Linked DNA regions of Homo sapiens. The protein of the gene in region 1 interacts with the protein of each later gene in a pairwise test. Each region holds a gene or a part of one and is shown on either strand. Other genes may lie near its edges.

Region 1 (7,461 bases):
ACACTTACATATTTCAAAATATCATGTTGTACCCCATAAATATGTACAATTATTATGTCAATTAAAAATCATAAAAGCAAAAACCCAAAACAAAAAATAACCTTCATCCATTTTTATTTTTTCCTCCAGCTACCACTCTATCTTGCTTTCTCTAAACAGCTAAACTTCCAGAAAGAGTAATGTACACTTTTCCTCACATTATCTCCAATCACTCTTTTCTCAACCCATTGTAATCTAGATTTTAATAAAACTACACTTGCAAAAGTTATAAATAACCTTTTTATTGCTGCATGTAATGGATAGTTCTCCATCCTTACCAGCATTTGATATAATTGACCATTTCTTCCTTCTTAGAAGATTCTTTTCCTTTGGCTTCTATGACACTACATTTTGAATAATAAATATGTGTTAAACTAGATAGTCTGGTGAACTAATAAAACACAAGTTCTGCTCTAATGGAACATAAATAGAAATATGCTGAATAATAATTTATTGAATAATGATTGCTTGAATAATCGCTGAATAATTATCAATTATGGAAGTTCAAGCGTTCATTTGAAAATAAATCTTTTATTGACACTGAAATGAAGTAGAAGTTCACTACATTGATTTCATTTATATACATTAATGAGTATAAATTATCCCTTTATTATTAATTTTTTTAAGTGATGTCTAATAAGTGGAAATTTCTTATGGTACATTTCATTAGATCTTAACTCAATGGAGGTATCATGAAGACTGTTGATTTAATTTAATCCAGGTGGATCGATTTCTGGTGATCTCACCATTCCAGATTAGAACACATTAGTCTGAGTTGGCTAATAAATCCTACAGCCCATCTCTAGCAAATGTGTATCGACTTCCCGCAAGTCTTTGGATCTTGCCCAATTTATGTTTGAATTCTTTGATTGTTGCATTACCCAAATTACCAAAAGACTCAATAACCTCTAAATGCCAGCACAAATGCAAAGTGACAGTTTACTTGAATGTTTTAGAATCCTATATGTTCCCACAGAAGGAGCTCATAGTCTTTTATCAACAGAAACTCAATTTATTGATTAATTGCTGAGAAATTAGGGGGCAACAGAAAATAGACTTATCAATCTACCATGTGCTATTGCAGGCACGTGGCGTGGGACTGGCGGGTAGCTCCACCTGCAGCCCCGGCATGGGATCCACTAGGTGAAGCCAGCTGGGCTCCAGAGTTGGGTGGGGACTTGGAGAACTTTTATGTCTAGCTGGAGGATTGTGTATGCACCAATCAGCACTCTGTGTCTAGCTCGGGGTTTGTAGATGCACCAATCAGCACTCTGTATCTAGCTACTCTGGTGGGGACTTGGAGAACTTTTATGTCTCACTAGAGGATTGTAAATGCACCAATCAGCACTCTTTGTCTACCTAAAGGTTTGTAAATGCACCAATCAGTGCTCTGTGTCTGGCTAATCTAGTGGGGACTTGGAGAACTTTTATGTCTAGGGAAAGGTTTGTAAATGCACCAATCAGCACCCTATGTCTAGCTCAAGGTTTGTAAATGCACCAATCAGTGCTCTGTGTCTACCTAATCTAGTGGGGACTTGGAGAACTTTTGTGTCTAGCTAAAGGATTGTAAATGCACCAATCAGCACTCTGTGTCTAGCTCATGGATTGTAAATGCACCAATCAGCACCCTGTCAAAATTGACCAATCAGCTCTCTGTACAATGGACCAATCAACTCTCTGTACAATGGACCAATCAGCAGGATGTGTGTGGGGCCAGATAAGGGAATAAAAGCAGGCCTCTTGAGCCAGCAGCGGCAACCCACTCAGGTCCCCTTCCACACTGTGGAAGCTTTGTTCTTTTGCTCTTTGCAATAAATCTTGCTGCTGCTCACTCTTTGGGTCTGCACCACCTTTATGAGCTGTAACACTCACTGTGAAGGTCTGCAACTTCACTCCTGAGGCCAGTGAGACCATGAACCCACCTGGAGGGATTAACAACTCCAGACGGGAGGAATGAACAACTCCAGATGCACCGCCTTAAGAGCTGTAACACTCACTGCGAAGGTCTGCAGCTTCACTCCTGAAGCCAGCAAGACCACGAACCCACCAGAAGGAATAAACTCCGAGCATGTCCGAACATCAGAAGGAACAAAGTCTGGACACACCATCTTTAAGAACTGTAACGCTCACCGTGAGGGTCCGCAGCTTCATTCTTGAAGTCAGTGAGACCAAGAACCCACCAATTTAGGACACACTATGTGTTAGGCCTGGCTCAGTAAGTATAAAGAATATGATAAAACTGGATTCTGGAATCTTACAATCTAGTCAGGAAGCAAAGAAAAAGACTTTGCTTTAAAGTTGGTGCAGTGGCTCATGCCTATAACCCCAGCACTTCGGGAGGCCAAAGTGGGCAGATCACTTGAGGCCAGGAATTGGAGACCAGGCTGGTAAAGTAGTGAAACTCTGTCTCTTCTACAAATAAAAAAATTAGCTGGGCGTGGTGGTGCACACCTGTGGTCCCAGCTACTCAGGAGGCTGAGGCACAAGAATTGCTTGAATCTGGGAGGCGAAGGTTGCAGTGAGCCGAGATGGCACCACTGTACTACGGTCTAGACAATAGAGCAAGGCCCTGTCCTAAAAAAAAAAACAACAAAAAACTTTGCTTTAACATAAAGCTCACCACCTAGAATGTCTTCTAATTTTTTTATTTTTGTTTCTTCTAGAATGTCTTTTAATTTTCTTATTTTTGTTTTTTCTCCTATAAAAATGCATTCAACAAATTCATTTAAGAAATATTTGTTGGCTTCATATGATCATGTGCCAATCACTGATGCTAGGCAAATACGGCTCCTACTGTCATAGACCTTTTTAGTGAAGAGAGACAATACACAAACAAATCATTGTTTTAGACCATAACAAATACTATGAAAACAATAAGCAAGGTAACATGGAGAGTGACTGGGGTGCCATGTTAATTGGGTGGTCAAGGAATGCCTCTCTGATGTGGTGACATCAACTGAAGTCTCAGACAAAAAGCCACGTTGAACATCTGGAAGAACAGTGGTCTAGAAGAGGGAACAGCAATTGCACAAGCCCTGGGCCCAGAAGTAAATTAGCTTGTCCCAGGAACAAAATGAGTATTAGTTACTAATACTGATTATCTCAGGGATTTATTTGGTTCTATAAAGACTTACAAGCCAACATCTCTGTCCTAAAGGAGCTCTGTAACAGAGACAGACGTAAGTAAAAAAGATCACTATTCAGTGCAAAAGTACATTGCAGTGACAGCAGTATGGACAAGCTAAGGACTAAGAAGGAAGAGTGATTACTTCTCTGGGGTGTATTTCAGGGAAGGCATCACAAAGGTGGTGATGTAAAAGCAGAATTTTGAAATATCGTTAGAATTGACAAAGCAGGGAGTAGAGTTGTACTGGGGAAACAGTGCACAGAGAACACTGAGGGCAAAGACCTCCAGGCTGTTTCTTGTTAGTGAACCCTGAAATAGAAGAAAGTGACGCTCAAAAGGCACAGGCACCACCAGGCCATGATGGGCCTTATATTCGGTGCATGACTGGAGCTATCAAAAGACTCCAAGGAAGGAAACACAGCGTTGGATTCGTTTCACGTGACTGTCTCCCTTAAGTATGTCTTCGGGAGAATAAATGTTAAATGATAAAGTGGCAAAGGGGCTCAGAAAGAGATGAGAAACCTGAGAGGCTTTGAGGGGTTGACAAATAGTAGGACTGGATTTGCCCACTGTTTAGTCACTAATAACTTGCAGTACATGGCACTAATAAATACTTCAGGAAGGAATGTATGAAAATGAGTAAAATGCTGATTGGCTGGGTGTGGCAGCACCATGTCTGATGTGTAGAAGTCGTGAGCCCCCTCATTAATAGACAGTGATGTGTTGTTTTAATTCTAACAACCCTATATGTAATTCCACTTTTCAGGTGAGAAAAACCGTAGCCTCAGAGAGATCACGGTACCCTGCCAGAGGTTGTAGAACTTGTTGGAAACTTGGATCAAGAGGGTGTGACAAATAACCAGGTATGCATGCTTAAAAATTACTTTCTACTACTTAGCCTACAGGCTCAAAGAATGAAATTATCTCATAAAAGAGATAATTTATAAAGTCGCTCTCAAAAGAGGGACAACAGAGGGTTCCGGAACGTTCCCGCCAGCCGCCACGAGAAGACCAGAGAGGTGCATCACAACAGCCCAAAGTCAAGCCTACTCCCAACCCCCTTCCCCGCCATCCAGGGAAGGGGCGGGGCAGGGTTCTTGGTCCGCCGCTGTCGCCTGCGCAGTCGCAGTGCGGCTCGTGGCCGCAGCTGCCTGAAAGGGCAAAGGGACGAGTATACGCATGCGTCTATTCCTAGGCTGCTGGCTCTCAGACCCGCAGTGAGGTCTGACGTCATTTCCTGCCGTAAGTATACAGTGCCTCCGGGTCGCGGTCATTTTGAGCCCCTGTCTGGATGACTTCTTGCGGCTGTTCTACCCCTCCCCCTCCCCGCGGTACCTTGCACTTTTCTCCCTCCCTGCCCCCTCTCGAGTCCACCCTCCGGGCCTTCTGCCCCTGATCGCTTGGTTTTCCTTGCAGTCGCCTGCTGCTGTCGTCGGGAGGTGGGTGAGGTGACGCAAACAGCCCCGTTGTTGCCCTCCGCGTATCCCCTCACCACCTTTGCGGCCATCCACGACTTTCGCACCTTCCGCCATTTTCCTGCCTGTGAGGGTGGACAGATCGCGCTCGGGTCTCGGCCTCCTGAGTGCCGGTGACTGCGGGAGGCGACGGAGTGCTTCTGGGGGTGTGAGCTGGGGAAGTTCGTGGTCACGGATGCGTGTGGGGTTGCTGCTCAGTCTGTAACGGCAGGTGGGAGACGGACACTGGGTGGAGGATGGAGTGCGGTAATCAGCGGTTGTAGGCCGCTTAGGCTTTAATCCAGCGTTGTTTTGTGTAAAGAACTTAAAATGGTATTGTCTTAAGCGCCGTGTCAGCCCTGACAGTCTTCCTGGTGTTTCTAGGAAGGATGCCGTTATGGGAAATAAGAGGGTTTCATTTTTTCTCATACGGTTGTAGGGTAAAGGTAGTTTATTCAGCAGGCTCCATCCATCCATGAATTCAGCTGACCTTTTTTATTTCTTTTCTCTAATTAAGGGGTTGGCATGTAGTAGGCCTTCATGGCTTATTGACTGAATGAATTATGGAAGGGCTCAGTTGCTGTCCTCATTGTGTATGCCATTTCCTGTTTCCATGCAAATTGTTTTTAAAATGAGAATAATCATGATCCCACGTAAACGTTCTGTAAAATACGGTTACTTGATCTGTTGGTCTGAGTCCCAATATATGAGTTTTTAAAAAAAGAACCAAATAAAAAATGTATATTCTTGGAATTTTATGCATTTTTTTCTTATATTCTTGGGGTGGAAGGAAATTTGGAGATACAGAATTTGCTGTTAGTTTTACCTCACAGGGAGAAGGATATGTCGTCTTTGTTATTCCATAATTTTGGAGTGCTCCTTTGTGGGAGAGGTTGAATGTTTCTGATGATTATTTCATTTTTTAATATGGAAGCTCAGAAATGACTTGAAATTTTTTTTCTCTTCTATTTTGGGGAATTATCCTAATCATTGGGCATAGATTCGAGAAACGACCAAAACATAGGATGTGAAAGAACCCACTTCCAGGAGGAAAAAATATGTCTGTTATTTTATTGATATCTTGATAGTAAAAAAAATTATAAACTTATAAAACGCATATGCTTTTTCAATTAAGGGACTTAACCTGAATAGTGAGTTCCAAATTAATCAGTAGGTCTGTTACTTTTTCATCTAGCTATTTACATGTGGAGTACGTAAGATATAGTAGTGTTTAATAAATATTTGTTGATTGATTGCTGTGTAGACTAGTAGTTTTACTATATCATACGTCTTGATTTACTTTGACCTATCTAGTGATAGTTTCTAATACTTAATATGTAATGTTTTTGATACAGGAAAGATGAATGGGAGGGCTGATTTTCGAGAGCCGAATGCAGAGGTTCCAAGACCAATTCCCCGTAACTATCTATTAAGTATTTATAATTAGAAGCACTTCCTATGTAAAGGAATTTTCACTGCCTTGAGTAACAGTGGCAGGTGGGCTGGCTTCATGGGCATGTGCAGACAGCGCCCCATACTTGGTTTCATGTTCTAGTCTTGTTATCTTGAAATTCATAATCATTTGGATAAGGAGTCCCACGTTTTTATTTTGCACTGGGCCCAGCACATTAGGTAGCCAGTCCTGACTAGCAGATAGTAGCATTAATTCTATTTGAAGTCAAAGTTTGTTGAAAGTGTATAAGTGGCCTGGCTCGGTGGCTCATGCCTGTAATCCCAGCACTTTGGGAGGCTGAGATGGGTGGAACACCTGAGGTCAGGAGTTCGAGACTAGCCTGGCTAACATGGTGAAACCCCGTATCTACTAAAATACAAAAAATTAGCCTGGCGTGGTGATGGGTGCCTGTAATCCCAGCTACTCGGAAGGCTGAGGCAGGAGAATCGCTTGAACCCCGGGAGGTGGAGGTTGCAGTGAGCCGAGATCGCGCCATTGCACTCCAGCCTGGGCAACAAGAGTGAAACACTGTCTCAAAAAACAAAAAAAGTGCATAAGCCAGTTGTTTTATTATTTGAGTTTAAAAAATGGGTGCCTCTTGTTAATGTTTAGGCTAAGATAATTTTTCAGACCTAGTTTTATTATGGATAATTTAATGTTTTCTGATTTTCCCTGGTAAAAAGACATAGGGCCTGATTACATTCCAACAGAGGAAGAAAGGAGAGTCTTCGCAGAATGCAATGATGAAAGCTTCTGGTTCAGATGTGAGTTCAATTTTCTAATTAATATAATTTGATCCAAAATTTGTACCTGAAATTTTGACTTGAATTTGAACCTGAAATTATAATAACTCCGTATAGAACAAATTGGCAAACTTTTTGCATAGTGTGGTTGTTGTTAAAAGAGATTAAGGAGATAAAGGAATTGCACACATTTTAAAGTAATTATTTCCAGATTTTTAACAAAACCATGAGGTAATTTTGTTGATAATAGTAATAGTTAGCATTTACTGTGTGTACATAGATTATATAAAAACAACCCAATAAGGTTGATAACTATTATTACCCTCACTTTACAGGTGAAGGAATTGAGGTTTAGAGATGTTAAATGGCAACACTTAGTGTTACACAGGTGATAAATTACGATGTTTGGAGTTGAAAACAGGTCTGTCTGAAACAGATTTTACTCTTAATGCTTTTAACCATTATATAATAGCAGATTAGTTCCCATTTTATCATTGTGAAATGTTGTTATACTACCAGCTCTTGATTTCTGATTAAAGAAATATATATATATTTGTGTATATATATATATCAAGATTGTATTTTTTAAATACAGAGATTGTTGGAAGCAGTATACAAAATATACTCTCACTATTTAACAAAGAA
Region 2 (7,024 bases), on another chromosome or scaffold:
TCGAAGGTGAATATTGGGGGGCTGCCTGGCACAGTCTGCCATCCAGATGGCGGCCGACTAAGTCCAACAAGGTTGGGAGGAAGAGAGGAGGTGCTCTTATTTAGGGGAGATTTCGGTGGGTGGACTCCCCCGAGGCTGTCGGGAAATTTCCAGGGTCTAGGAAACTGCCCTTTCTCCCCCATCTCCTTGCCACAGCTTCCAGCCTCGCCTTCCAAGAAAACATAGTGAAGCAGGCTCCTCGGTTGTACCCGCCCACTAAGGGACCCTCACTTTGGAAGGGCGTCCCAGTCACCAGCCGACCAAAGGCTCTCCCTCCATAGGTTTCCATCAACCCACCATCTCTGATGGTGACTGAGAAAAGAAAGCAAGGGTTGCAGGACAGGCAGTGTGAAGGCCAAAATCCTGGCCGAGGAGTTAGAAGGCCTCAGCGACTACTGGCCACGTGACTGCTGAGCCTCAGTTTCCCCCACTGTGTTCCCACTGGATGCTCCCTCAAGGCCTCTTCCGGCTCTGAGAAACCTAGGATTCCGATGTCAGGGATTGTGTCTCCCTCCTCACCTTCATGTCCCCAGCAATTAATACACAGTAGACACTTAAAACAGTTCTTTGAATGATTGAATGAAATCGGTCCTCAGGTCAGTCTGAAGATCCGATGGAAGCCAGGAAGGAAACGCTTCCCCCAGGCGCCTACCGTCTGTCAACCATAGAAGCCACACGTCTTGGGAGAACCCTGGCAAGCCTAGAGCCCTTTGCACACCCGCTTCCTCTCCTAGATGCACAGATCTGTTTGGAGGAGCCAGGGGGGAAGCAGGAAAACGTGCCAGGAAGAGAGGGTGGCCTGAACCCCAGGCAACGGCGGGTAGCCCTAACTTTCGCTTTCTTGACTCCTGTGGCCCCTCTCCTTCCCTCTTTCTGGTTTCCCTCCCCTTCCTGCCTCCCTGGCCTGGCCTCCTTGGCTTTCCTGGGACAGTAACCACTTTTCCTTCTCTCCTTTGTTAGGGCTCAGAGCCTCCGATGGTCCCAGAGCTGGCCTGATCCTCTGCTGGTGAGGATGACTCCCAGAGCCTCAGGCTTTCTCTGGGTCAGGGAAAAGAGCAGCGGCAGTGGAGAGATTGAAATTCTGGTCAGTGCCCAGCTTCTGGAGCCCAGCACCTGGGAATGGCTCTCGTTAACACCTGGAGCTCCGGACTGGGGCTTTGAGGAGGAGGGAAAAGGGCTGCGCCCACTCTTTATCCAACCTTCCCTTCCAGGTTTAGGGAAGGGGCTCCTCTTTTGAGGGAATCTGGCAGTGCCTTTCCCTCCACCTTCCTCTGCAGGGTTCCCAGGGAGATGTTAGGGTTTTCCTTCTGGGCTTCCTGAGCCTCCATCTCTTCCCCTCCACACCCCTAGGGAGGTGGCTGGATAAGGAAGGAAACTGCCCTCTCTCTCCCCTGCCTCAGCCCAGCCTGAGACTTATTTAGATGTACTGTGTGTGTGTGTGTGCATGCACAGTGCGCATGTAGGGTGTCAGTGTAGCATTGTAGCTGGTGTGTGGTGGTGCGGTATATATGCGGTGTGTTTGGTGTGTATGTGTGTATAGGTATGATGTATATGTATGTGTGGTGTGAGTGTGAGGGTGTGTTGATTGCGTAGTGTGGTATATGTCTGTATGTGTTTGTGGTGTTGGTGATGTGCAGTGTGTGTGAAGTGGGTGGTGTGAGTAAGGGGCCACTGCAATTGGGTGTAGGAGCCAGATATCTAGGTCTCCTAGCCAGGGATAACCAGTATCTAGGCAACCATACTGGGGGGAGGGGAGGAGATATGGAGGTGAGGAATGGGCAGGAGAAAGAGGGAGGCTGAGAAATGGAGGAGTTTCCATGGCAACGACCAGGCAAGTCACGTGCAAAAGGCTAAGTTGCGGACGTAGACATACACATCCATAATATGAGGGTGGCTGGATCCCCAAAGGGGGCTCCTTTCAGAGAGGGCCTGAGATGCCCACTGATCCATCTTCAAAGCTGGAAATCTTAGCCCAGCCAGACAGCACGAAGCCACAGAGACAAAGGAAGTAGTGGCAGAGAGCACACTGGTGGGGAGAAGCCTCCAGTAGCCACGGTCCCGCGAGCGTGCAGGCTTGCAGCAGGTGACGCGGCAGACCCATGTTTCCAGCGAGGCTGCTCCCAGCTCCCACCCTCGGGTGCCTCCTCTACCAGCCACCACTTGTAAGAGCCAGAAGCCAGCGCTGGGAGCTCCAGGCTGCACACCCAACTCTCCACGGAAGCCCGGGAGACACAATAGGGGAGGCTCTGCCAGGGCCAGCCCTGCTGGGGAAAGGGGGCAATGGCGGACCCCAGGGCCCCCCGGAAAGGAAACAGGATTGGATGGATAAGACAAGAAGGAGGGAAAAAATGATGCACTCTCATGAATCCCCGAGCGCTAGAATCCTTCTTTCCCTGCGCCCCCATCCTGTGCCCACTGCCCAGCCCCACCTTCCCCAAGCACCAAACCAGCAAGTTCCATTTTGTGTCGCTCATAAGTCCACACTCACACCCAGCCACACGCCCTCGTCCGTAATTCCCCACGCTCCACCAAGTGTCCACAGCTTCCAAGTAACAAAGGGAAAACTCCTCATGGATAAAGGGTGGGCGCAGCCCTTTCCCCTTCTCCTGAAAACCCTGACCCCAAGCTCAAGGCAGCACCGAGAGCAATTCCCAGCCACCAGCGTCACCCCCAGCGCCACAGCCTGCCTCCCCTAGAGGCTCCTCTCTCTTCCGACGCCGATCTCCTTGTTTACATCCCCAGCCCGGTTTCCCGCTGCCCAGGCGGGGACCGCGGCGCAGCTGACCGCGGAGGACCGCACACACCCACTGAACACACAAAACCCGGCGCTCCCGGCGCTCCAGAGATCGGTCCCCACCGAGCCTCGCCCCTCCTCGGAAAAAGGAGCCAACTTTGCCCACCTCCCCAGCCGCCTACCTGCACAGCCGGTCCCCTCCGAGACTCCCAGGAGGACCCGCCGAGTCCCGAGGAGCCTGGGAGTGGCGGGGCTGGGGGCAGGGCGGTGGGTGAGGCTTGAGCTGCTTTCCCGCCTCCCCTCCTCCTAGGAGTCGGGCTGGCTGGGAGGCGCGTCCTGCGGGGGCGGGGGGGGGGCTCGCTCGGGGCTGGGCTCGGGGACAGCCCACTCCGTGCTGCCGTCCGCTGGCTTCTGGGTAGCGGCCGCGCGCAGACCCCCTCTCCTCCTCTCCCTGTCCGTCCTCCCGCTCTGTGCTCGCGCGCGTCCTCTGCTCCTCTCTCCTCTCGAGGGGCGGAGAGATTTTTCCAAAGGGCAGTCAAGCTCCGAGAAGCAACAGGAGACTGCCGCCGAGGAGGCGTGCAAGCGCCGGAGCGGATTTGCCATCAGCTGTTGCTTTTCGGTTTCCCTCTGGTTAGGGTGGGAAGGGAGCAAGACAGGCACAATGACAGACCTGGTGTCTCTCTGCAATAGTAAACCCCGAGGAACGGAAAAATAGGAGAAAATAACCCAGCACCAGACACAGCAGCCCACGTTAATTGGGAGCCTTGGTAATTAAGGGGAATGTGCACCAAAAGCATGAATGGCTGTGTCGTGGGCGCAGGAGCCAGCTCCAGTTGTAGTTGTCATTTTCAGCTAGAGCCAGGTGGGGAGCTGGGGGGATGGTCCTTACCTGAACCATAGATCTGCTGCCTTGAACCCCCTTTTCAAGCCCCATCCACCTCTGGCCCTGCCAGGAGCAGTACCACCCCGTCCTCAGCCCAGTCCCCAAGAGTCAAAATTCATGATGACGAACTTTGAATGTGAAGATGTAAATAAATCCTGGCTCGGCAACCCTGCCTGTGACGCGACTTGGAGCATATCTCTGCACTCAGCTCCTGAGTCTATTTCCTCACGTGGGAAAATGGTGATTAGAGACTGACCCCATGGGAGGCTTAGCTCATAGTGAGTGCTCAAGAAATTGGCTCTTACTATTAGGGGCAGAGCTTGTAGGAAGGGGCAGAGGCCAGGCACAAGTGTCAGTAGCCAGGAGCCATGCTGAGATGGAGGCTGTCCAGCCTCAGTCAAGGTGTGTGTATGGCCGAGCCGGGTGGAGGGAGGAGCTACTGAGAAAGGCTGTGATTGTCCAAGCCTAGGTAGGGCCACGGAGAGTTCCTTACAAACCCCAAGCCGGGGATGATGGGTACTGCTAGGAAGAAACCTAGCCCTGCCTCTGCTGCCCTCAGTTCTGGGCCTGTTTTCTCATTTGGGAAAATAGGGAGATGGACTAGATGATCCTGAGGTCTCTTCCAGCTCTGCCCTAGATGATCTAATTATTTTAATAAAAGGTCAGGTCTCAAAACCCCAAGGCAGGAAATATACATGAACTCAAGAAGACTTTGGAACCAGTAGGGGAACCATAAATAGCTACTGAGAAAGAGCACCCAAAAAGCCTCCCCTCAGGGGATAGTTCTGGCCCCTTAATCATGGGACCTGGCTGAATGGATGCCACTCTGGCCCAGTCCTGAACTCCCTGGGGTTCCTGTGAATGCTAAAGCTCCTTCTCCAAAGCCAGACTCAAATCTTGCCTATTTGCGTGCCTAACCCTTTGCCGTTCCTGTCTTTTCCTCTATAAACTGAGGACAGCATTCCAACTGTCGTTTTCCCTTTTCATGTATTCTAGGTGGCAGATTTAAAACCACATCCCTTTCTAGGCCCATGTCCTTAGGCAGGTACATTCATCCCTCCAAATGCCCTTGAATCCTGCCTTTTGGCCATCTCTCTGTGCTTTTTAGAGCACCTACTAGTGATGACACGTCAAGCCCAGGCTTTGCAAGCCTATTTGGGAAAGGATAGTTCAGAACTCCAAAGCCAAGCCACCTTCTGGTTCAACCCCATTTCCAGCCAGAGAGTTCTGAAGTGTTTGGCCCAGTGACTTCCCAGGTCCCCCTACCTAATGCTGACCAGCCCAGGCTGCAGAGGGATAACAGGAACTAAATGTGCATGAGAAACCGCCATGGCTTAACTCTCAAATAGTGCTTCATCACGTTCCATCCAAGGGTACTGCTGGAAGAATTTGGGGTGTTACAGCTACAAAGCAGCACGCAAGCTTGTTCTGGGGTGAGTCACATCTCCCTTCTAGCAGGAAAATAAACACATCTACCCCCTGTGAAAAATGTGGGCATTCATAAAAAGAGGTCGCCAGCTGTTCCATTCTTTCAACCACGTATGGACAGGAGGAGCTACTCTTCACTGAGACCTGGGCCAAGATCTGAGGATATACTGTGGAGAGGAAAGATGTGGTCCCTGGGTGAGATAGAGATTTAGCAAATGTTCCCATGAATAAACGTGTAATTAAAACACAGTTCAGAGCCCTGAAGATATAGCATTTGAGAAAGGTCAGGAGATGTTAAGAAGATGAGGTAAAGGAGCCAAGAATTGGGATGTCAGGGTGGGAAGATGATTCTGCCTCTGGAACAGAAGCAGTATGTGCAAAGGCCCTGAGGCAGAAGGGGCATGGTGTGAAAGGAGCCAGGGTGGGACTGGCCCAACAATTCCTGGTGATTCCAGCTTTTATCCTGGGAAGCACTGATGGGCATCATGAAAACTGTTCTGAGCAAGAATTGGTGAGAGGTTGGGTTGGGATGTTCCTGGTGGACCCTGCAAGTCAGGGTTCAGGGGGCTGTGTGGGGGCAGCACTAACATGAAGCTGAGAAATAAGCCTGATCCCCACTAAAGAATCCTGCTTCTTTACAAGCCCAAAGAACAAAAAAAGATCCAGGGCAGGGCTGCGCAGCCATGGAGAAAGTAGGGTAAGAAAGGGTGGAAACCATTCCTGAAATACTCCCCACCCGCCAGAACTGGAACCATGGGAAGACCTGGAGCTGGAGAGGACAGCATAACTGCTGGGAGCATCAGGGACTGCTCTATGCTTTGAAGCTTGCTCTGGGCTAAGTAACTCACAAATGTGCAGCTAAAATCCCATCTGGAGAGGACTTGCCCTGGTCCCCTTGTATTGCAGCAAAATAGCCCTTCCGCATGTCAGTGCCCTGGTCACACAGCCACGGACAGGTCACAGAGTGACCTCCTGTGTCCTGGTCACACCGGACATGGAGGGCCTAAAGGGGAAGTTAAAGGGGAGAGACCAGGAGTCTTAGAAGAGACCCTCACCCCTCCTAGCAGGCATCCCTTCTAGTGGGGTGCCACTTCATCCTGGGGTGGGGCTGCAGAAGGGAGCCGATCTTGCCCACTGACTGCTACTTTGTGTCCATGCATACCCACTTGGCTTTGCACAGGTGTGAATGTGTGTCCTCCCCACTCAGCCAAATGCCAAACCCCCAACCCCTAGGACAGAATCGTTTCCTAGCTCCTTGGCTGAAACAGCTCTGCTCACTTCCAAACCACTCCTTGATCCTGGGTCCCTTCCTCTCTCTCCAACCTTTCTTTGTCAAACTCCTCCAACTTCTCCCTCAAGCAGCTGTGTTGAGTCCTTGGTCATCTTATGCAGTTGCTAGACAATCTAAATCCACAACCAGGGTTTTACCACCCGCTTAGGCTTGATGAGTCCACAATATCCAGCCCGGTCCTCTCCCCAGGAGACCCAGGCAAGTAATCCCAGGGAGTCAGCACCGCCCACTCCCAATCCATCCTCCCAGTCCACTCCCTATCCATCCTCTCACGGCTTGAAGCCGTTCCCTCTCATGTCTTCTTTGAATTCATGAATGGCACTGCCCCCAATCCAGTTACCCTGCAGAACACATGCCACGCTCAGACCTCTCCCCCAGTGCCTCCTTTCCTGCCCACCACTCCTGTTCTAGGTCAGGTCTCTGGCATCAGATTCTCACTGGTGACTCTGCCACAGTCCCCCTACCTCTAGGTAGAGTTATCTTCCCCAATACAAATGCGATTCAAAACTTCAATGGCTCCGTATTTTCTACGAGTTAAAGTCAAAATTCTTAACACGACATTCAGCCTTTACAACCTGACACCCACCTGCCTCTCCTGCTTCATCTCGTGACCCATTCCCTGCCCTATTTCCCCCCATCACCCTCATCA
Region 3 (6,888 bases), on another chromosome or scaffold:
ACACTTCACTCCACCTTCCCTTCATACTGCCTTGGCGTGCCTGGCATAGCATTCACCTGTCTTTATCAAAATCCTTCCCATCCTTCAAGGCCCTTCTCATGTTACCTCTTACAGCTGTTTCCCTGATTTCCTCGTTATAATTAGTCTGGCCCTCCATCCTCAGAACCCTGATAGCACTCTAACTGCCCTAATGACAGTGGCCACCTTCGCTCTATATCATTGTGTAGGTACATGCTTGCCCTGTTCACCAAAAGCTCTCAGAGATCAGTAGGAATCCTGCTCATTTTGGGGTGCCTAGCATAAGAAATTGGTTGGGGTCTAGTCTCAGCTCTAGCAACTAACTGGGTTGGCCTCCATGTGTCCCCCAACTCTGTGAGCCTCATGCCTCTAATTTATTTAATAAAATGTTAGATGAGAGCCGGGTGCGGTGGCTCACACCTATAATCCCAGCAACTCAGTAGGCTGAGGTAGGAGGATCGCTTGAGGCCAGGAACTCAAGTGTGCAGTGAGCTCTGATCACACCACTGCACTCCAGCCTGGGCAACAGAGCAAGACCCCATCTCTTTTTTTTTTTTTTGAGACAGTCTCTCACTCTGTTGCCAGGCTGGAGTGCAGTGGCACGATCTCGGCTCACTGCAACCTCCAACTCCCTGGTTCAAGTGATTATCCTGCCTCAGCCTCCCAAGTAGCTGGGATTACAGGCACGTGCCACCACACCCAGCTAATTTTTGCATTTTTAGTAGAGATGGGGTTTCACCATGTTGGCCAGGATGGTCTCGATCTCCTGACCTTGTGATCTGCCTGCCTTGGCCTCCCAAAGTGCTGGGATTACAGGTGTGAGCCACCACTCCCGGCCAACCCCATCTCTTAAAAAAGTTAGACTAGACCGTCTGTAAGGTGCTTTCCAGCTGTGAAATTCTATGGCTCTGTGTATGGAAGGAAAAGGGAGGCTGGGCTCTGACCTGTTCATTTAGCCCCGGTCTCTCATGTGGCCCTCTGCCGATGCAGCTCCCAGATACGACCAGGCCTGGGGAAGGAGATGGTCTGATGAGGCCAGCACTGGGGACTAAGGACGTGGAGTGAGCAGGCCAGCCTGTGGGCCAGGCCCAGGTTGAACCATGTTGCTTGCCTCAGTCTCTTCACAGAGCCCTCAGAGCCCCTCCCTGAGGAGTCCAAACCTGTGGAGATGCCCTTCCACCACTGCCACAGGGACCCCCTTCCGCCGCCGGGCCTTACCCCTGAGAGGCTGCATGCACGGAGGCAGCTATATGCTGCCTGTGCCGTTTGCTTTGTCTTCATGGCTGGGGAGGTGGTCGGTAAGTTGGGGAGCAGCCCTTAAACCCCATTCTCCAAATACCTGCCCAAGCCACTCTCCACCCAGAGTCCCAGGAATGTTCCTGGGTGCAGATGCAGAGATGGGGATGGCTGGGATAGGGGAGCTGGGTGCCCAGGACTCAGGAAGTAGGAGGGATAAGGGACAGCAACAAAGGGAATTCCAGCCGAGGTCCGGGGCCAGTAGGTCAGGGCTGACTTCTTTTAAAAACCCTATTTTCTTGTTATTAAAATAAATCATTGTAGAAAATAAAATACAGATGAATGAAAAAAATAACATAACAGTAGTTAATTATACCTGTAGTCCCATCACCTGAGAAAACCCCAAATCACATTTTTGGTGTATATCCCCCAATTTATTTTCCATGCCTATACACACTACATGATATTTTCTAAATGGAAGCAGACTCCATCATTTCACCCTGGCAGGCGGGTATCTGGCACACAGCCTGGCCATCATGACCGATGCAGCCCACTTGCTGGCGGATGTGGGCAGCATGATGGGCAGCCTCTTCTCCCTCTGGCTCTCCACCCGTCCAGCCACCCGCACCATGACCTTTGGCTGGCACCGTTCAGGTAAGGCCCCTGCATGGCCCAGTGACTCTCCAATCTTGCCAGAGGGCACCCGTCAGGGTCCCAAGCAGGTCTCTGACAGCTTGTCTCCCCCCCCACCCGCAGAGACTCTGGGGGCTTTGGCCTCTGTGGTCTCCCTCTGGATGGTCACTGGCATCCTCCTGTACCTGGCCTTCGTCCGCCTGCTGCACAGCGACTACCACATCGAGGGGGGTGCCATGCTGCTGACCGCCAGCATCGCAGTCTGTGCCAACCTGTTGTACGTCCCAGTATGGAGCAGGCACCTTGTGGGGCCCAGGGCGAGGGGTCTTCCTCCAGGATGGGAGAGCTGGCTCTCTCCTCCCCACCAGACACACAGACACGCACACACAGCTCTCCATGGGCTGCCCTGCGTGTGCCTGAGAAGGGTCTGGGATAGAGACCTAAAATTCAGTCAGCAGATCTCTGTCAAGGGCCTGCCATGGGCCAGCCACTCTGATGAGGGCTTTCATCAACATGATTGCATTTAAACCTCACAGCCACCCCATGAGGTAGGTAGCATTACCCCTAGTTTACCATTAATGCAGTCAATCCCAACAGGTGACTTGCCCAAGTCACATATCTATTTAAGTAACAGGGCCAGCTTCCGAATCCACATGTGTGGCACCAAGTCTGGTATTCTTTCCCCCAGGCTGCATTGTTTATCTCTCTTGCAAAATGCTGTTTTCTTCCAGGGGCTGGGAAAGGGCTACTGGGGAGGTGAGACATGGAGATGGGGGTATAGGAGGCCAGGAGCAGGGCCCTAGGCTGAGGTGCTCTGCTTACCCCTCAGAATGGCCTTTGTGCTGCACCAGGCTGGGCCCCCCCACAGCCACGGGTCTAGGGGAGCAGAGTATGCACCGCTGGAGGAGGGGCCTGAAGAGCCCCTGCCCCTGGGGAACACCAGCGTCCGGGCGGCATTTGTGCACGTGCTGGGGGACCTCCTGCAGAGCTTTGGGGTACTGGCTGCCTCCATCCTCATCTACTTCAAGGTACCATCATTGGAGACCTGCCCCAGCCTTCCTCCCCACAACCACATCCCAGCCCACTCCTTCCCAGGTCCCAAAGCTTCCTTCCTCCTCCCTCCAGCTCCTCCCTCCCACCTCCCAGGACTCTCCCAGACATGAGTCATGTTCCCTGTCCCCTCTTCAGGGTTTTGAGGGGCCTCTCAGGTCATGTTTGTTCAAGATACCCCTAGATCTTCCTCTGAAAGGTCCCTGGTTGTTGGGCTTAGGGGTCTCTTTCTCTGCAGCCTCAATACAAGGCAGCCGACCCCATCAGCACCTTCCTCTTCTCCATCTGTGCCCTTGGATCCACCGCTCCCACCCTCCGAGACGTTCTTCGAATCCTCATGGAAGGTGAGTCGGGCACCACAGCTCCCCATCCCTGTGGCCCTCTCTGACTTTACTCTCGCAGTGGGCCATCACTTTTTTCTTTGAAGATAGTACGGGAAGAAGGCTTGGCTCATGGGGTCTGCTGCTGGAACAAGGATTTGGGCATAGGGTGAATTGTAGGGGTCAAAAGGAGAGTGCATACAGGATAGGGGAGGTGGAATCCAGTGGTGGGGGTGCTGCTTCTGGGCAGGAGTAGCCCTAGCAGTAAGGCATGACTGGTGCTGGTTGCAGGTACCCCCCGCAATGTGGGGTTCGAACCTGTGCGGGATACGCTGTTGTCGGTGCCAGGAGTCCGGGCAACCCATGAGCTGCACCTGTGGGCCCTTACGCTCACTTACCATGTTGCCTCTGCACACCTGGCCATCGGTGAGTCACACTGGCCCCAGCTAGTTACTACCTGGAACATACCCCACCCCAAACATGGGACCATAGCTTGAGTTACTGGAATTGTTTCAGTCTTTTTTGATCTGTCTCTGTTTCTCTGTGTCTCTCTCTCTCACATAGACACATACACACACACACACATGCACGTGCGCTCGTGCATGTTGGAGACAAGGAGTCTCCATCCACTGGATGCAGTGTTCTGGGGGCAGTTTCACCCTCTTTGAAGTAGCACAGGGAACCAACAACCCTTTAAAAGATCATTAGTACCTACAGGTCTAGTGATGGGGCACAGTTAGGTAAATTACAGCACCTCCACCCTGAGGTATCACATAACTGTTAAAAATGATGCTTGTGAAGACTGTACAGCAACTATGAAAAATGTTTATGGTATAATGCTGAGAAAAAAGCTGAATATAAAATTGCATCTACATTATGATTCAACTATTAAAAATATATATGGTGAGTCATGAGCTGACAAAGGATTTTTGAGTTTCTTCCAGATGCAAGAAGCAATCAGAGTCATGCAATTTGTATGCCAAAAATATTATAATTTGTGGGATATTTGATGGAAACTCTAGAGGGACAATGAGACAGATATTTAACAACTGGATTGTCCTGGGAAATCGGGTGGTATGGCTGCTGAAATGTTGAGCTGTATGTTGACACTTAATGACAGGAGAGAATAGGAGACTGGAAAGAGTTTAGTGTGTTAGCATGGTTGATTGGGGTGAGTCTCTCCAACATTTGATTTGACACTTTTATGCTGTTCATACAATACAGAAAGAAAAGCAGGCTTCCATTCACGCCTGGCTTTAATGCTGTGCAGCCCCTTTCCCTGTCCTTATCTCAGTCCCTGCCTGTTCTTTCTCCCCCGGGATGGATGCCGCCTCTTATCACTCTCCCACAGACTCCACCGCTGACCCTGAAGCCGTCCTGGCTGAAGCCTCATCCCGGCTCTACTCCCGGTTTGGATTCTCCAGCTGCACCCTGCAGGTCGAGCAGTATCAGCCGGAGATGGCCCAGTGCCTGCGCTGCCAGGAACCCCCCCAAGCCTGAGCCATGGCCCTGCCCTCACCCCACTGCCAGGCCGAGGCTCAGCCCCAGACTCTCAGCATCTGCTGCCCTGATCACAGAGACGGGACCGAGCCAGGTCCATACCCCTTCCTCTCTCCCTCCTACCACCTGCCAGTTTCCCCAGCCTCAGCCCCAGCCCCAGCCCCAGTGGGCAAGACCAAAGTGTGGCGGGGAGTGGGGTGGGAGTCAGGGGAATAGATGTGACTAGTTCAGGGGCGGGGACTCCCAGGCCTCAGTGTGGCAGGGTGTGTTGAAGGCCTGTGGTGCCATCTCCCCATGGTTCATGTGGAGCCACGAACATCCTTTCCCTGCAGTCCATTTGTCTGTGTGGCAGGCTGGCTGGCTGGGGGCATCTGCCTGTCTATGTGCTGTTGGTGTGCCTATGCCTGGGGGAGGTCAGTAGGGGCCCCCTCCCCACATGGCCCTCGCTCTGTCTATGCAGGGGCCCCAAAGCCCGCACTTTGTCCGTGTGTCTTAGCCCTGTGGTTTTGTCTGTGTGTGTGTGTGTGTGTGTGTGTGTGTGTGTGTGTGTGTTCTTGGTGCTGTGGCCTGTGTGTCTCTGTGCCTATGTGGCTGTGCTATGGTTTCTATGAGTCTGCTCCATCCATGTGTCTGTTTGGGGGTCTATCTCTCCATCCCTCTGTTGGTGCTGTGCCCTTGGCTATCCCTGAAAGAGGGAGGACTCCGCTGCAGCTCCACCAATAAACTTGTGTCTCACTGCATCTTTCAGCCTGTGTGCTGACTCCTCAGGAGGGGGAAGTCAAATAGGTCACTTGAGAACAACAGAATCCCTCCTGTCCCTTCCCAGCCTCTGGAGTGACCTCCCACAGACCTCCTGTCCCTTCCCAGCCCCTCCACCCTCAGATGGAGGGTAAAAGCCACCAGTCTCTTTACTCCCCTTCCCCTGGCTCACAGCATGCCTGGGTCCTTGGCTCAGGGACAGTCCCATGTGCCCTGGGCTTGGTTGCAGGAGAATGCTGGAAGGTAAGGAGCCAAGGAATCCCTGGGAGTCAGTCGTTCTCAGAGGTCCCTGCATGCCAGTGGGCCTCAGGCTGGCTGGAGGGAGGCTGGGTCCCTTTGAGGGAGAATGGCTAGACCATAGCACTGATGTGGGCTTGGTTCTCAGGCCATCTAAGGTGTCCAGCGGTAGGGACCCCTCAACCCTGATAGCAGCCAACCCTGAGTCCAGGTTTAGGCTGTGAACACCAAGGACCTCTTTTACACCTATTCCCCCTTTGTCTTAAGAACTGCATATTTTGACACATTAAGTCTTAAAATCAGGCTCATTAAGGGATTGTTGATTTTCTCTTTAAAAAAAATCAAACTCAAGCTGGACATAGTGGCCTGTGCCTGTAATCTCAGCCCTTTGGAGGCTGAGGCAGGAGGATTGTTTGAGCCCAGGAGTTCAAGACCAGCCTGGGCAACCTAGGGAAACCCCTGTCTCTACAAATAATTTAAAAATTAGCTGGGTGTGGTGGTGCATACCTGTAGTCCCAGCTATTCAGGAGGCTGAGGCAGGAGGATTGCCTGAGCCCAGGAGGTCAAGGCAGCAGTCAGCCATGATCATGCCACTGCACTTCAGCCTGGGCAACAGAGCAAGACCTTGTCTCAAAAAAAAAAAAAAATCAAACTCACTGGGTTTGGTGGCTCATGTCTGTCATCCCAGCACTTTGAGAGGCTGAGGCAGGAGGATCGCTTGAGGCCAGGAGTTCAAGACCAGCCTGGTCAACATAGTGACACCCTGTCTCTACAAAAAAAATTAAAAATAAAAATAAATTAGCTACGTGTGGTGGTGTATGTCTGTGGTTCCAGCTACTCAGGAGGCTGAGGTGGGAGGATCACTTGAGCCCAGGAGGTTGAGGCTGCAATGAACTATGATCATGCAACTGCACTCCAGCCTGAGCGACAGAGCAAGACTCCATCAAAAAAAAAAAAAAAGAAAAAAAAAGAAAAATCAGCTAGGCAAGATGGCTCACGCCTGTAATTCCAGCACTTTGGGAGGCTGAGGCAGGCAGATCACTTGACCCCAGGAGTTCAAGATCAGCCTGGGCAACATGGTGAAACCCTGTCTGTACAAGAAATACAAAAATTAGCTGGGCATGGTAGTGTGTAC
Region 4 (7,024 bases), on another chromosome or scaffold:
GAGCCACAGCACCCGGACCCTTTCAGCATTTTAAATGTGCCATTACATTGTATTCCTGCTCCCATGAATTCTGATAAAATGTCAGTGGTCATCTTCTCTCCTTGCTCTTTTTTCTCTCTCTGGCTGATTTTAAGGTCTTGTCTTTGCCTTTGTTTTTTAGTAATTTGACTTTAATGTGTCTTAGTGTAGTTTTCTTTGTGTTTATACTGCTCAGGCCTCCTCGTGCTTTGTGGATCTCTAGGTTGATATTTTTCATCAAATTTGGAAAAGTTGTAACTATTATTTCTTCAAAAAAAAAAAAAAAAAAGAAAAGAAAAACTGTAAAACAGAAAACCCAAAACAAAAAACTGCCCCAATTTCTTTCTTCTTTTGTTCATTTTTAAATCACTCTTTTCTCTCATGCTTCAGTTTGTATAGTTTCTACAGACCTGGCTTCAAGTTCACTGAACTTTGCTTCTGCAATATCCAATCTGTTATTAAATCCCTCCAATAATTTTTTTTTCTTAAGACATCACAGTTTTCGGATCTAGAATCTCCATGTGGATTCTTCTTCATAGTCTCCAGGTATTTTCTGAGATTCCTCATCTGTTTTAAACTCCCTGTGTGTGAATCTCAGTATCTCTCCCGTCTTTTGATCTGTGTCTATTGATCTGTTTTCCCTTAGGTATGTGTCACTTTCCAGTTTCTTGCCCATCTGGTAATATTTATTATATATTTATTATTTATTTTATTACATTATTATTGATTTATTTCTGATAATATTTACTTATGGTACATGCTAAGTTGTTACAGTAAAGATTCTGTTGTATTCCTTTAAAAATTGTTGAGTTTTGTTCTGTTAGGCGGTTTATTTACTGGAGGATCAATTTTATCCTTTCAAGGTTTGTCTGGGCCTTGTTATGGCAGTTCTAGAGTAGCCCTCCCTCTAGGGATAGAGTAGCTCTACTCCTAAGCTGTGGCCTTGGCAGGGTCAGCTGAGTGCCTGGGATGTCCAGCACCATCTCTGAACTCTGCTTGGTTGGAACTTCAATGTCTTTCAGCACTGGGAACTGTCCGGAATTTCCATTTATCTTCCAGCCTTCTAAGAGTTATTTGCAACTGGAGCTTGCAGAGTTTTGGCCCGTACAACATTCAGCTTGATATCTGGACAACGACTCACGGAAACTGCTTCATGGATTTCTGAAGCATCCTCCCTGAGCGGCTTCCTCCTCTTCCATACCCTGCCCCACAAACTGCAGCCATGTCAGTAACCTGAACTGTAATTTCTGTTTCCTCCACCCAGGCTGCTGTTCTCTGGGCTTTACCTCCTTTTGTTGCTGTTTGGAAAGTGTCTCCAGGGAAACTACTGGGGTGAATTCAAAGCTCATTTTCTTGGTTTCTCTTCCTTCAAGGATCACAGTCCTGTACTGTTTGGGTTCAGAGCCAAAAAAACAGTTGCCTTTATTCTTTTTCTAGTTTTACAGTTCTTTATGGCAGAAGGGTAAGTCTGAGACCCATGATTCTGGCCAGAACCAAAGATTCGCATTTTCATTCATTCTGTTACTGTGTTAGTGGCTTTTGAGGTCCTTTGTGATCTGGACTCTTGTCTAGCTCTCCAGCTTTATTACAAGACTTGTGCTACCTGCATACCTGCCCCCACCATGCATATGTACATAACTCAAGCTGGTACATGTATTTTATGTTACAAACAATGAGCTATTTTCATTTCTCCAAAGATGCTGGTGCTTCCCCCTTCTCTGGGCTTCCTTCATGCTGTATTCTCTACCTGTAACACTTGCCTCACCCCTACCATCTCTCAGCTTCTACATGTTTTTCCAAATCAGCTGAAATATCACTTCCTCTGGTACTTCTGTCATGTTCGCATAGCAGCCTGAACTTTCCCCCATCAAATATTTTATCAAATTTCATGATCTCTTTTTCTTTAATAGGAACTGCATTTGCCTGCTTGACTCTAAGTTCTATGAAGGCAGTGTGGGGGATCATCCTGCTTGATTATCACAAACATTAGTCACCTGCTATTGTACCACTTATGGAAATGTCAATTTCAAATTTAGGCTAGTAAAATTACTGGATAAACCTGCTCTTATGATACCCAGAGGGAATTTGCTTGAAATTCTACTCTATTAAGCTGCACAAACCTTGCTTATATTGCTTGGGGTGTCCTGAAATGCCTTCTAACTATATGGCCTTCAAGGCTGATTTTCTCATTTCTGTCCTTTAACTCCTCCTCCTTACCATTCCCTGTTGCTTTTACCATCTATATGTATTTTGGGTGCTAGGTAATTATTAAAGCCATCATAAACCTCGTATCTCAAAGAAATATATTTTGTTATATTCTCATGAAGACATCCCCTGAAAAAACAGAACCAGATTTGAAACTTTTAAACCTTTTATAGGTGTTTTTGTGACCAGGAAAAAAACTATCACAGAATTATGTTCTTACAGCCAGGCGTGATGGCTTACGCATATAATCTCAGCACTTTGGGAGGCCGAGGCAGGTGGATCACCTGAGCTCAGGAGTTCAAGAACAGACTAGCCAACTTGGTGAAACCCCATCTCTACTAAAAATACAAAAAATTAGCCAAGGGTTGCAGCCCGCATCTGTAATCTCAGCTACTTAGGAGGCTGAGGTGGGAGAATCACTTGAACTCAGGAGGCGGAGGTTGCAGTGAGCCAAGATCGCTCTACTGCACTCCAGCTGGGCAACAGAGCAAGACTTTGTCTCAAAAAAAAGAAAAAAAAAAAAAGGTTCTTACAATGTGCCTATGAGATTAGGAGTGAAATCCTAAGTACAGTTCTTCTGAACAATGTAGGCTCAGAAGGGTTCAAACGAAACACCTTGGGACCTCCTTAGTTAATATAGTGCCTAGAGCCTAAGATACTGCAATATATAAGCTAAAGGGCTGGTAACCAGGTGGATGGAACCATGAAGTCGTAATAATATATTTTCATTTCAAAAAGACAGACACACACAGACTTCTCAACAGTAATTCAATTTGAAAGGGAATTCAAATATATACATGCAACTGCCTATTACAGGTAATGTTACACTTTACCCACGAAAATCCCCAAAAGATATTTTCAAGCAAAGTAAAAGAAAAAAAAAAGTGCTTGCCTTAGAAAACAGAACAAACAAACAAAAAAAGTGCTTGACTTACGACTTAAAAGCAAGGGAAAGGAAAAGTAAGAGTAAAGGGATTTGAAAAATACCTCTCTGAACCTATTCTGGTTCTGATTCAGGAAAGTACCATAAAGACAGAAACATACCTGAATTTATAGCTTTCCCAAACTGTACACGGTACCTAGTGCAAGCTTACGAGTTGCTGGCACACTTCATTATTTTTATTATTTTTTTGAGACAGGGTCTCGCTCTGTTCCTCAGGCTGTAGGGCATGAACACAGCTCACCACAGCCTCAACCTCCTGGGCTCAAGCAATCCTCCTGCCTCAGCCTCCCATGTAGCTGGGACCACAGGCACATGCCACCATGCCAAGCTAAACACTTCATTATTTATAAGTTCTTTTTCTTTTGAGCCTCTATTTAATGGACATAACTTTATAAAGAAAAGCTACATATCATATCCATAATCATGTTAAGTTCCAGCAGCTTAAAAGAAAATAACTAAAATTCTGAAGCCATGTCTTACCATTGATGTCACCACCAAGGCTGGAGAGAATCCCATTGTGAGATAGAAAAAGAGTTCAACCACCTTATATCTGCAGGAACAAAAATGCAGTTAATTTAACTTATAAATTTCTATAACACCTAACAATTTACATACCAGCCTTTCCTTTTTACTTTTGAGAAAGAAATGTAAACTCTTAACTATTCAAATAAAACTTTATTTCTCAGTAGGCAACCACTAGGCCTCTAACTAAAACACAGTAGCTGAGTAACAAGGAACTAGCATTTCTCTCAGGGTTGAAAAGGCATCAAATCCCACATGCCACCTAGAAAATGTTTTCTGCCGGCCGGGCACGGTGGCTCATGCCTGTAATCCCAGCACTTTGGGAAGCCGAGGCGGGCGGATCACGAGGTCAGGAGATCGAGACCATCCTGATTAACACGGTGAAACCCGTCCCTACTAAAAATACAAAAAATTAGCTGGGCGTGGCGAGCGCCTGTAGTCCCAGCTACTCGGGGAGATGAGGCAGGAGAATGGCGTGAACCCGAATGGCGTGAACCCGGGAGGCGGGGCTTGCAGTGAGCCGAGATCGCACCACTGCACTCCATCCAGTCTGGGTGACAGAGCGAGACTCAGTCTCAAAAAAAAAAAAAAAAAGAAAAGAAAAAAAAAAGAAAATGTTTTCTGCCAAAAGTAGTTATCGTTTAACCCACTCCACCTTGTAAAATATTTCCTCTTCTGATCCTAGAGTGTCTGCTTTCATTACCATTCCAATCCAGAGCTAGAAGTGAAATTCTGAAGATGAATGGAGATGCAGCCTGGAGCCTAGTTTATCAGCAAAAAGGAACAGCAAGCCCTAAGGAAAGGACGTGTAATTTTGTTTGTCTCTTTATTTTGCACCTGCACAAACTGTAATTTTAAGGCTCATCACGTTAGACTACAAAAGATCTAAAAACCCTAAGAAATACATTGTATTGAAATTCAAATTACATTTCAGCCTAATCAAACCAGACGATAAGCTCCTCAAAGGCAGGAACCAAGATTAATTATGTTTTGATCTGTAAATCCTAGAACAGTACCTGATACAATTTAGGTACTCCCTAATGTCTGCCAAACTGAATGGCCAAGGGTGACTCATACCTCATTCATCGTGTTTTATACTCAAAGCCTACCATGAAATAATCAGATAGGGGAAGAATGGGTTTATGGGTTTTGTTTACACCAGAAGGCCGGGAAAAGGAGAAAAGATAGTTGCCTTTCTTGACTTCCTATTTTATCCAAGGATATAAATAAGAGATTTGAGTCCAAGAAGCAAACCATTCCCTTGGACTTAAATATGCTATAATATATAACACTACTCAGCATTGCTAATTATGGTCAAAAAGGTATTTAAGTGAATTTCAGAGACAAAAAGAAGTTAGTGAAAACTACCATTTTCTTCTTCTGAAAGGGGAAAACAATTTAGTATTTTCTGATAAACACAAATTATGTTCAATTCTGAGAGCCATTCTGCCAAGCACAATAGATACAGAATTTAATGAACTGTAAATAAACCCAATGACAAAGATTTCCTGGTTGTGTGTTTCTCAAATTCAAACATACAGGGTAATAAAAAGAGCAATGGAATCAGAACTTGGATGTTTGGGTCCTAATTTCCAGATGAGTCACTAATTTGATGCATATCCTAAATGTTCTGACTTTTTAATCATGAAGTTGGAATAGGGGACCTTGAAGGTCTCCTCTAGAGCAAAGATACTAAATTTCAATTAGCTTTTGTTTTTATATGGCTCAATAATTAGGACTATCAGCTATGAATAACTGGCTAAAAAGCTGTGCCCTAGGGATAGGATATTAAGAGTTCCAATGTCCTTCCCAACATCCTTTTTCTCAAGATACCCTTTTTGGAATACCCTCTAGGCCCTTATTTAGGTATATTGTACTGAGCACTTAATATCTATTCTCTCCAATCTTCATAGACACCTTGACAAGTGGCTGGTTTTCTCACGTGATGACTGAATCACAGAGAATAAGGCCAATTTGCCTCATGCTATAGAAATGAAGTCTGATGGACTCCAAAGGGGCTGGTTACCATGTCCCCTCAACTACATTATACCAAACCTGTACCACTCTTGTTTTTCCACAGCAATCTTTCCACTAATAATGAATACCAAATGGTTTTGAAGATTTATTAAAAATAACATATTCTATATATGTATTTCTACTGTTTTGAAGTACAAATAAAAGTAAATTGTATTGCAGTGCAGATAATATTTAGGCAGTCAATTTTAAAACTATCAAATGTAAATTATTTTCTCTTACTTTTCATGGTAGAGAAATACATAAATGGTTCCTCCAGCTGCCATGAGCCAGATAAACCAACGCATATGAGATGCCAGGGGTCCAAGTTCACGAAGATTTAACCTAAAAATGTAAACGTGACAACAAAGAACAGAAGTGATAAATGAAGGGAATTCATAGAACCTGTGTCATTGAAAACTGAGAAAGTCTTAGGATAAGAGCAGGAAGAAAACACACTCAACACATCAAGCAGGCATTTGGGCAATTTAGGTAAAATTAAGCAACTCAAAAACAAATTTGTCAGTCGACCTTTAAGACTCAGAATTAGGCCGGGAGTGGTGGCTCACATCTGTAATCCCAGCACTTTGGGAGGCCGAGGCAGACGGATCACTTGAGGTCAGGAGTTCAAGATCAGCCTGGCCAACATGGTGAAACCCCATCTCTACTAAAAATACAAAAATTAGCCAGGTGTGGTGGCATGTGCCTGTAATCCAAGTTGCTCGGGAGGCTGAGGCAGGAGAATTGCTTGAGCCCGGGAGGCAGAGGTTGCAGTGAGCTGAGATTGCACCACTGCACTCCAGTCTGGGCGACAGAGCAAGACTCCACCTAAAAAAAAAAAAGAATTAGTTTCAACATGGTTTAAAAATAGAACCAGCTAAAAGCAGACAAGTTGAAGGGAGTCCCAGCACTCTTATGACGCCTAACTTACCCTATTAGGCAGAATGAGGTCAAAACTGCTTGCCCTTTAATTTCTGACCATGTATTTGGGAGCAGATTACTTACAAACCTTAATGAGAAGAACCTGGAACAAAATTTTGACGCAGGATCAGATACCCACAGTGGATACCTAATACACAAACCAAGTGTGTCTCCATTATCAGTCTCTCTGCCAAGAGAGAGTATGAGAAGAATTATTCCTAACATGTATTATGGAAGACATTTTGGTAGAATTTAACCATGGACTGTTGTGAGGTTTGAATTTTAAAATGCTGCAAATTCATTTGTACTAATTTCATATTAAGAATACATGAGAAGTTCAGGAACAGTGGCTCACACCTGTAATCCCAGAACTTTGGGAGGCCAAGGCAGGCAGATCACTTC

The links.
Region 2: the proteins of OCIAD1 (region 1) and FXYD6 interact in binary tests that used the Homo sapiens proteins (3 or more experiments, as listed by UniProt).
Region 3: the proteins of OCIAD1 (region 1) and SLC30A3 interact in binary tests that used the Homo sapiens proteins (3 or more experiments, as listed by UniProt).
Region 4: the proteins of OCIAD1 (region 1) and MMD interact in binary tests that used the Homo sapiens proteins (3 or more experiments, as listed by UniProt).

Annotation. Positions count from the first base shown.
Region 1 is NC_000004.12:48,826,645-48,834,105, forward strand, and holds the start of OCIAD1 (OCIA domain-containing protein 1), read left to right. Parts: upstream 1-4,443; 5' UTR 4,444-4,457; coding exon of another isoform or gene 4,458-4,497; 5' UTR 4,498-4,605; exon of another isoform or gene 4,606-4,877; coding exon of another isoform or gene 4,878-4,887; intron 4,888-5,975; coding exon of another isoform or gene 5,976-5,980; coding exon 5,981-6,038; intron 6,039-6,756; coding exon 6,757-6,837; intron 6,838-7,461. UniProt on the Homo sapiens protein: Maintains stem cell potency. Increases STAT3 phosphorylation and controls ERK phosphorylation. May act as a scaffold, increasing STAT3 recruitment onto endosomes. Involved in integrin-mediated cancer cell adhesion and colony formation in ovarian cancer.
Region 2 is NC_000011.10:117,873,637-117,880,660, forward strand, and holds the start of FXYD6 (FXYD domain-containing ion transport regulator 6 precursor), read right to left. Parts: upstream 3,023-7,024; 5' UTR 2,956-3,022; intron 1-2,955. UniProt on the Homo sapiens protein: Associates with and regulates the activity of the sodium/potassium-transporting ATPase (NKA) which catalyzes the hydrolysis of ATP coupled with the exchange of Na(+) and K(+) ions across the plasma membrane.
Region 3 is NC_000002.12:27,253,181-27,260,068, reverse strand, and holds the end of SLC30A3 (probable proton-coupled zinc antiporter SLC30A3), read left to right. Parts: intron 1-1,134; coding exon 1,135-1,316; intron 1,317-1,738; coding exon of another isoform or gene 1,739-1,761; coding exon 1,762-1,908; intron 1,909-2,010; coding exon 2,011-2,164; intron 2,165-2,716; coding exon 2,717-2,915; intron 2,916-3,175; coding exon 3,176-3,281; intron 3,282-3,548; coding exon 3,549-3,683; intron 3,684-4,608; coding exon 4,609-4,757; coding exon of another isoform or gene 4,758-4,983; 3' UTR 4,984-6,385; downstream 6,386-6,888. UniProt on the Homo sapiens protein: Probable proton-coupled zinc ion antiporter mediating the import of zinc from cytoplasm into synaptic vesicles and participating to cellular zinc ion homeostasis in the brain.
Region 4 is NC_000017.11:55,397,823-55,404,846, forward strand, and holds part of MMD (monocyte to macrophage differentiation factor), read right to left. Parts: intron 6,726-7,024; coding exon of another isoform or gene 6,629-6,725; exon of another isoform or gene 6,492-6,628; intron 6,047-6,491; coding exon 5,945-6,046; intron 3,717-5,944; coding exon 3,647-3,716; intron 1-3,646. UniProt on the Homo sapiens protein: Involved in the dynamics of lysosomal membranes associated with microglial activation following brain lesion.